2 linked regions of the Homo sapiens genome follow. The protein of the gene in region 1 purifies or fractionates together with the protein of each later gene. This does not show direct contact. Each region holds a gene or a part of one and is shown in the gene's direction. Other genes may lie near its edges.

Region 1 (3,824 bases):
CCCCTGAAGAATTTTAAGCAAAGGAGTTACATGATCAGATTGTTAAAAAGATAACTCTGGCTATAATGTGGAAACGCAGTATTGGGCATAGATTTGGGGAGGGTGATGTTGCAGTTAGCAGGTGAGAAATGAAGGCTGCTTGGACTAGAGTGGCATAGTGGAGGGAGAAATGTGCAAATTTGGGATAAATTTTGAAAGTGGGGCCAACAAGGCTACTGATGGATTGGATGGGGGAAAAGGAAGAAGAGGCAAGAAAGGCTGTTAAATTTCTATCTAGTTCACTGAATGGAGAATGAACCATTTACTAAGATGCAAGTCACTGAACAAAAACCAGGTCTGAGAGAAAGATTTTGTACACTCATCCAGACAGCACTTAAACTTTACCCAAAAATTCCCAGGTGTGACTGCTCTGCTAGGGATAGACATTCTAACAGGCTTTCCTGTATCCTGGCACCAGCCCTCCTGGTGGATTCTGTGAACTCAAAGCTTCCCTCTTCATTAAAAGGCAGTTTTTCCTGGGGAGACTCATGATAATTTATGGAGGTAAACATGGCCAGAGAAAGAGCCCAGAAATTCCCGTTTTTCCCCTGAGCAGGAGCTGGGGTCTTCAGGGGGTTTTCCCTGAGGTAGAGCACCTTTCCCTGAGCTTCAATGACCTTTTCAAATGACAAGAGCACACATATCTAGAAATGGGTTTGAACCTGCAGGAGCTTGCAAACGAGGGGGAATTCTTGCACTTCACATTTAAGGGCATCACAAAGGAAGGAATCAAGCTGGAGTTTCACTAGTTCTAACAAAATGTTCATTTTTTATTGATTTTTCCCCACTGGAGACTCCAATGGCAGCAATTCAAGATGGTCTTGCTAAGGGAGAAAACGATGAAACAGTATCTAACACATTAACCTTGACAAATGGCTTGGAAAGGAGAACTAAAACCTACAGTGAAGACAACTTTGAGGAACTCCAATATTTCCCAAATTTCTATGCGCTACTGAAAAGTATTGATTCAGGTAACCACTGTGTGGTTGTGATTATGTGGAACAGAAAGAGTGATTCCAGGAAATGTATGGGTGTGTTCTTTTCTTCCTGTTTTCAGTTTCCAAATGTAATCTCCAATGACATACACTGTGGGCTTGGGGAAAAGGGTTCACATCGATTTTTTTTTCCAAAGGAGCATGCCAGTTATGAAAATATTTAGGAAAGGTGATGTTTCTGGATAATTTAATCTTCTTGTTAACAGAAGGTTCATTTATTTGTTCAGCAAACAAATACTGAACGTGTGCTATGTACAAGGTGCTGGAAAAGACCTAGCACAAAGATGGATATGAACCAGGCAGTGTCCTTGCTCTGACCCAGTTCAACCTCAACTCTTATTGCAACTCTTTTTTTCTCAGCTTGATTGAGGTATAATTGGCAAACAAATATTGTATATATTTAAGGTGTACAATTTGATGTTTTGGTACATTTATACATTGTGAAATGATTATCACAATGAATCTAACTAGTGTATCTATCACCTTATAGTTAACATTTTTTTCTTTTTTTTCTTTTATTCTTTTTGTGTGTGTGATGAGAACACTTAAGACCTACCCTCTTAGCTAATTTCAAGTACACAGTACAGTATTGTTAACTATCACCACCATGCTGTACATTCTCCAGAATGTATTCATCTTGCATAACTGAAATTTCATACCCTTTGACCAACACCTCCCCATTTTTCCCTCCCCTTAGCCCTTGGCAACTACCATTCTACTCTCTTCTTCGATGAGTTTGACTATTTGAGATTCTACATATAAGTGAGATCATACAGTATTTGTCTTTCTTTGCCTGCCTTTTTTTATTAGCATACATGTTGTCATACACACACACAAAAGTAGGAAGGAAATCCTTCCATTTGTAACAAATCTTTCTTTAAAAGGCTCTACTCACTTTCCTTAATGGAAACAGTGTATGAAACCTAATTCATCCTTTTTATATTATTCAAGAGATCTTTATGAACAGTTTCAGTTTCAGCCTTTATGAACATTTTAACTTCAGAGTTAAAATGGAGAACATTAGACTGAAGGAATCTGGGAACCTCAAACACACTTGGGAAATTATTTGTTTTTGTTTTTGTTTTTTTAAAGCTAAGTATTTCATGCATCCTGATCTCTTTGCTCATATGTGCAGTGAGTTAACTGAGGATTCAGTCCATGTTTATTTTGGTTAATCTGCAAGGAGGATAATAATGTGCAATGTTTCTGTTGTTATTGTTCAAACAGATGCTCTGGACTGCCTTCATGGCTTTTTCTTTCCCTGTTCAAGGATTCAGCCCCAGATTGAACATTTATATAAAGACTTCTATAATTGTAATCTATTTCTCCCAAGAAGTGACCTTAAAATAAGCTTTCATTTCTGGAGAACATCCTTTGTGCTTCAATTCCAGACATTGGCCAGATGGCACCGGCCACTCTGCTGGCTCTGCAGGGCTTGTACATCTTGAGGGTCCATTCTGAGCCATCTTGCCCCATTGGTTGGCAGATGCCCTACTCAGAACCTCTGTCATCCTGGTGAGTCACTTCTCATCAGTGAAGAGCAGCAGCGTGATGCCAAATACTTCTACGGATGTGTCCTTGAGCAAATAATGTGATAGCTGAAGTTACTATTTATCAGTTCTTTTCCAAGACCTCTTCCCCTGACTCTTCTCCCATTTTTCCTCCCTCTCAACCCATGACTTTATGGCATTTTTAAAAATTCTACTGTATAAAATGTTCCTTACTTGTTTTTATCTTTCCATTTCCCTCACCTCATTTCTTATTGTCTTTATTTTTCCATAATTTTAATTTAAATATTTATACTGAGTTCTTTGCTAGCATCTGTCTTTCTTGCCCAGGGTCTCAACCAATTAAGAATGAATAAAGCAGGTAGGAAACCAAAATATCATCTCTGTTGCTGATAAACACAGGGCTGCAGAACATAGCTTCATGTGAGAGCCAACAGTGGCCTTGTTTGCTCCCTACTCCTCCGTCTAGATCTTGGAACAGCCAGTCTCAGGGATGATTTGGGTCTGCAGAACAGGCTCGTTTCTCAGGTTCTTGCCTTGCACTGTTCCAGGCAAGTGGAAAAAAAGAAAGATTCCAAATCCCCACCAGTTGAGAAACATAGGCTAATGGCTGTTGCTTACCAACCATATCTGCGGGGGAGGATGAAGAGGAAGGGGGAAAGGCTAGGAGTATTTAGAGAAAATCTTTCAGTGGCAGCTCAAAGAATAGGGAAAATGGGTTCCCCCTCTAGCATCTTAGTTTTTCTTTTCTTCAAAAATGGAAACAGATTTTTTTTTCTGATTTTAGAATTAATATTTTTTCTGAGCTATTATGGCATCATTATCCATTTTGTTCCATCAAGATGCAGAACAGAATGTCAAATACAAAGGGTTCCCAAGAGGCCGAGCGCGGTGGCTCACGCCTGTAATCCCCACACTTTGGGAGGCCAAGGAGGGCGGATCGCCTGAGGTCAGGAGATCGAGACCATCCTGGCCAACATGGTGAAACCCAGTCTCTACTAAAAATACAAAAATTAGCCAGGCATGGTGGCGCACGCCTATAATCCCAGCTACTCGGGAGGCTGAGGTAGGAGAATCTCCTGAACCCAGGAGGCAGAGGTTGCAGTAAGCCGAGATGGTGCCACTGCACTCCAGCCTGGGTGACAGAGTGAGACTCTATCTCAAAAAAAAAAAAAAAGAAAAAAGGTTCCCAAGAAACTGCTAGTAATCGTTACTTAAAGGGAGTTAGAGGGGATGAGGAAGAGAATATTACTTTCCATTTTTATTTACTTTTCAGCAGTTG
Region 2 (3,824 bases), on another chromosome or scaffold:
CAGATCTCAGCTCACGTATCCCCTCAGAGAGGACTTCCCCTCCCTGACCACCCTATCTGAAGTAGCTCACATTCCCCCACTATTCATTTCGGCCAGTTGAGTTTCCTTGTAGCAATTATTACTGTCAAAAATGATCTTATTTATTTACCTGTTTATTGGCTTTTGACCCGTTGCCTGTCCTGTTCTCTGTTGTTTCCCCAGCATCTAGAACAATAGGTGCCTGACACAATAGGTGCTTCGTAAATATTTATTATTATTATTATTATTTTAGAGACAGGGTCTTGCTCTGTTGCCCCGGCTGGAATACAGTGGGATGATCATGGCTCACTGCCATCTCCAACTCCTGGGCTCAAACGATCCTCCCACCTCCGCCTACAGAGTAGCTGGGACTATAGGTACACAGCACCAAATTTTCTGTAGAGACGGGGGTCTTGCTTTGTAGCCCACACTAGTGTTGAACTCCTGGCCTCAAGTGATCCTCCTGCCTTGATGGGATTACAGGTGTGAGCCACCACACCCAGCCTAAATGTTTATTTCATTGGTCAGTGTCAGAACTAGGATTGGAATTTAGATTGTTAATCTCTTGCCACAAGATAGGAAAATGGAGCAAGATGAGGAGAAAAAAGCATTTAATGGGAGAGAACACCCTTGTCTGAGGTCAGGGACCTGGGAAGCAAGCACGACTTTGCCACTGTCACTGTGTGTTACTTGGACAGTGCCTTATTTTCCCATCTGTGAAATAAAAGAGCTGGATAAGAACCTTAGTTTTGAGATCCTGTCTCCCTTAAAAGCTGAAGACAAAGGTAACTGATCCAAGGGCAGACAAGGGATGGTACCATCATCTCCAGCTTGGACTCCCACTGCTGACAAAATTTGTCCCTTCAAAGTTGAGATAGCTACCATGGGGAAGAGCACTTAGTTCTATACTGAATGGCTCCAGGCATTTTCATGAAAGCTCTTTCAGCTTTGGGGAAGAATATTCATCCATATCTTTACCCCATCATATTAGTGTCTAAGCCCTGCAATCAGGCATGTCAGCCACGTGATGGAATGGGAGGGCTGCAGGGCAGCACTGTCCAGTAGAAACGAAATGCAAGCCACATATGTCATTTTAAGTTTTCTTTTTTTGAGATGGAGTTTCACTCCATCACCCAGGCTGGAGTGCAGTGGCACGATCTCGCCTCACTGCAACCTCCGCCTCCCAGGTTCATGTGATTCTCCTGCCTCAGCCTCCTGAGTAGCTGGGATTACAGGCATATGCCACCATGCCTGGCTAATTTTTGTATTTTTAGTAGAGATGGGGTTTCACCATGTTGATCAGGCTGGTCTGGAACTACTGACCTCAGGCCACCCGCCTTGGCCTCCCAAAGTGCTGGGATTACAGGCATGAGCCACCGCGCCCAGCTAATTTTTGTATTTTTATTTTATTTATTTATTTATTTTTTGGGAGACGGAGTCTTGCTCTGTCACCCAGGCTGGAGTGCAGTTGTGCGATCTTGGCTCACTGCAACCTCAGCCTCCCAAGTAGCTGGGATTACAGGCATGCACCATCATGCCCAGCTAATTTTTGTATTTTTAGTAGAGATGGGGTTTCACTGTGTTGGCCAGGCTGGTCTTGAACTCCTGACCTCAGGTGATCCACCGGCCTCAGCCTCCCAAAGTGCTGGGATTATAGGCGTGAGCCACTGCACCCGTCCTAATTTTTGTATTTTTAGTAGAGATGGGGTTTCACCATGTTGGCTAAGCTGGTCTGGAACTCATGGCCTCAAGTTATCTGCCCACCTCAGCCTCCCAAAGTGCTGAGTAAGCCAAGTTTTCTAATAGCCACATTAGACAAGTAAAAGGAAACAGGTTAAATTCATTTTAACATGTTTTACTTAACCCAATGTATCCAAAATAGCATTTCAACATGTCATCGGTTTTTTAGTTTTTTTTTTTTTTGAGATAGTGCTTCGCTTTGTTGCCCAGGCTGGAGTGCAGTGGCACAATCTCGGCTCACTGCAACCTCCACCTTCCAGGTTCAAGTGATTCTCCTGCCTCAGCCTCCCGAGTAGCTGGGATTACAGGCACCCGCCACCATGCCCACTAATTTTTGTATTTTTGGTTAGAGATGGGGTTTCGCCATGTTGGCCAGGCTAGTCTCAAACTCCTGACCTCAGGTGATCCACCCACCTCGGCCTCCCAAAGTGCTAGGATTACAGGCGTGAGGCACCGTGCCTGGCGTCATCGGTATTATTTAAATGAATTATGTTACGTTCTTTTGTGCTGTCTTCAAAATCTGTTATATATTTTACACTTACACCAAATCTCAATTACCATGGTACATTTTTATCTGAAATGCTTGACCTTTATTTTGATTTCATAAAATTCATAGTTGGAGAAGTAGATTCACATATCCAAGTTGTTCCAATTATATAATAGTTTTCCAAAAACTGAGATGGGTGTCCATTTTTTTTTTAAGTAAAGATGCAGGTCTGGTTATGTTGACCAAGTTGCTGGGTTGTTTTGTTTTGTTTTGAGACAGAGTCTCACTTTGTCACCCAGGCTGGAGTGCAGTGGCATGACCTCAGCTCACTGCAACCTCTGCCTCCCAGGTTCAACTGATTCTCTTGCATCATCCTCCTGAGTAGCTGGGACTACAGGTGTATGCCACCATGCCTGGCTAATTTTGGTATTTTTCTCAGAGACGGGGTTTCACCATGTTGGGCATGCTGGTCTTGAACTGCTGACCTCAGGTGATCCGCCCACCTCGGCCTCCCAAAGTGCTGGTATTACAGGCATGGGCCACCACACCTGGCCTCAGCTGTTCAATTAAAAGTAAATACAACTTAAAATTCTATGTTTCATTGGCAGTAGTGCAACATTAATACTGAGTAGCCACATGTGATTAGTGGCTATGGTATTGGACAGGGAAGGTACAGAATACTTCCATCAACATAGAAAATTCTATCAGTCTAGCTCTAGGGGCAGATAGTCCTTCCACTGACTTGGGCAAGTCACTCTACAAATGGCATCTACCTCACATGGTTATGGTGAGAATTCAGCGTATGTATGTACATGCAGGCACACAATATGCACACAGACACATAACATAGTACACCCTTTCCTGAAAAGCCTGACACATGGAGCTCAAACATGAGTGCCACCCACCCCTGGGCAGCACCAAGATGGCTCTAGTCTGGGTGCCTTTGTCTCACCCCCATGCCTTTGCTCGGAGTGTGCTCCTCATTTTTCTGCCACTTTGACCCTGTCTCTGATTTGGTCCTGTCTGACATCACTGCTATATGCTTTGCTCCTCTCAATTTCCTCTGCCCTCATGCCAGCAGGAGTCATGCCAGAGATCATATCTGAGAAAGCAAGACAATTTTGTGTGTGTGTCTGTGCCCATAGAGGAGTGCTGGTTGTGTTGATATAGTTGTAGATTGGTTGTGTTTACACAGTTGTATATATTGACACCCTTGAGTGTTATGACTTCTTTTGGGGGTGGTCGCCTTTTAAATCATAACTTTTAATGGGATTCCATTTTAGTCTTTGTGAAGACATAAGGTTGTTGGCAGGCATCTGTCCCTGGGAGCATCCAAGCAGAAAAGACTAAGACTCCCTTGTAGACAGATCACTGGCCGCCACTGAAGTGTGTCTGCATGGCACCACAGGGCTGGAAGACCCTTGAAGGCAGGAATTCAAGGAAATGTATGATGAATTTTGGCATTGCCATCAAAAGCAGAACAGGCATGGAAAACTTGGGTGAGTGGGCGAGACAACCTCCTCACCACAGCAGAGTTCCATCCATGCCTGGATAATGATGGAGGGATTTGTGTCCACTG

Evidence for each region.
Region 2: the proteins of SCG3 (region 1) and IRGQ purify together in Homo sapiens (affinity purification with mass spectrometry; 2 studies listed by BioGRID and IntAct, with this or other methods). This does not show direct contact.

What each region holds. Positions count from the first base shown.
Region 1 is NC_000015.10:51,691,327-51,695,150, forward strand, and holds part of SCG3 (secretogranin-3 isoform 1 precursor), read left to right. Parts: intron 1-832; coding exon 833-1,010; intron 1,011-3,824. UniProt on the Homo sapiens protein: Member of the granin protein family that regulates the biogenesis of secretory granules. Acts as a sorting receptor for intragranular proteins including chromogranin A/CHGA. May also play a role in angiogenesis.
Region 2 is NC_000019.10:43,586,023-43,589,846, reverse strand, and holds part of IRGQ (immunity-related GTPase family Q protein), read left to right. Parts: 3' UTR 1-3,824. UniProt on the Homo sapiens protein: Autophagy receptor that specifically promotes clearance of misfolded MHC class I molecules by targeting them to the lysosome for degradation.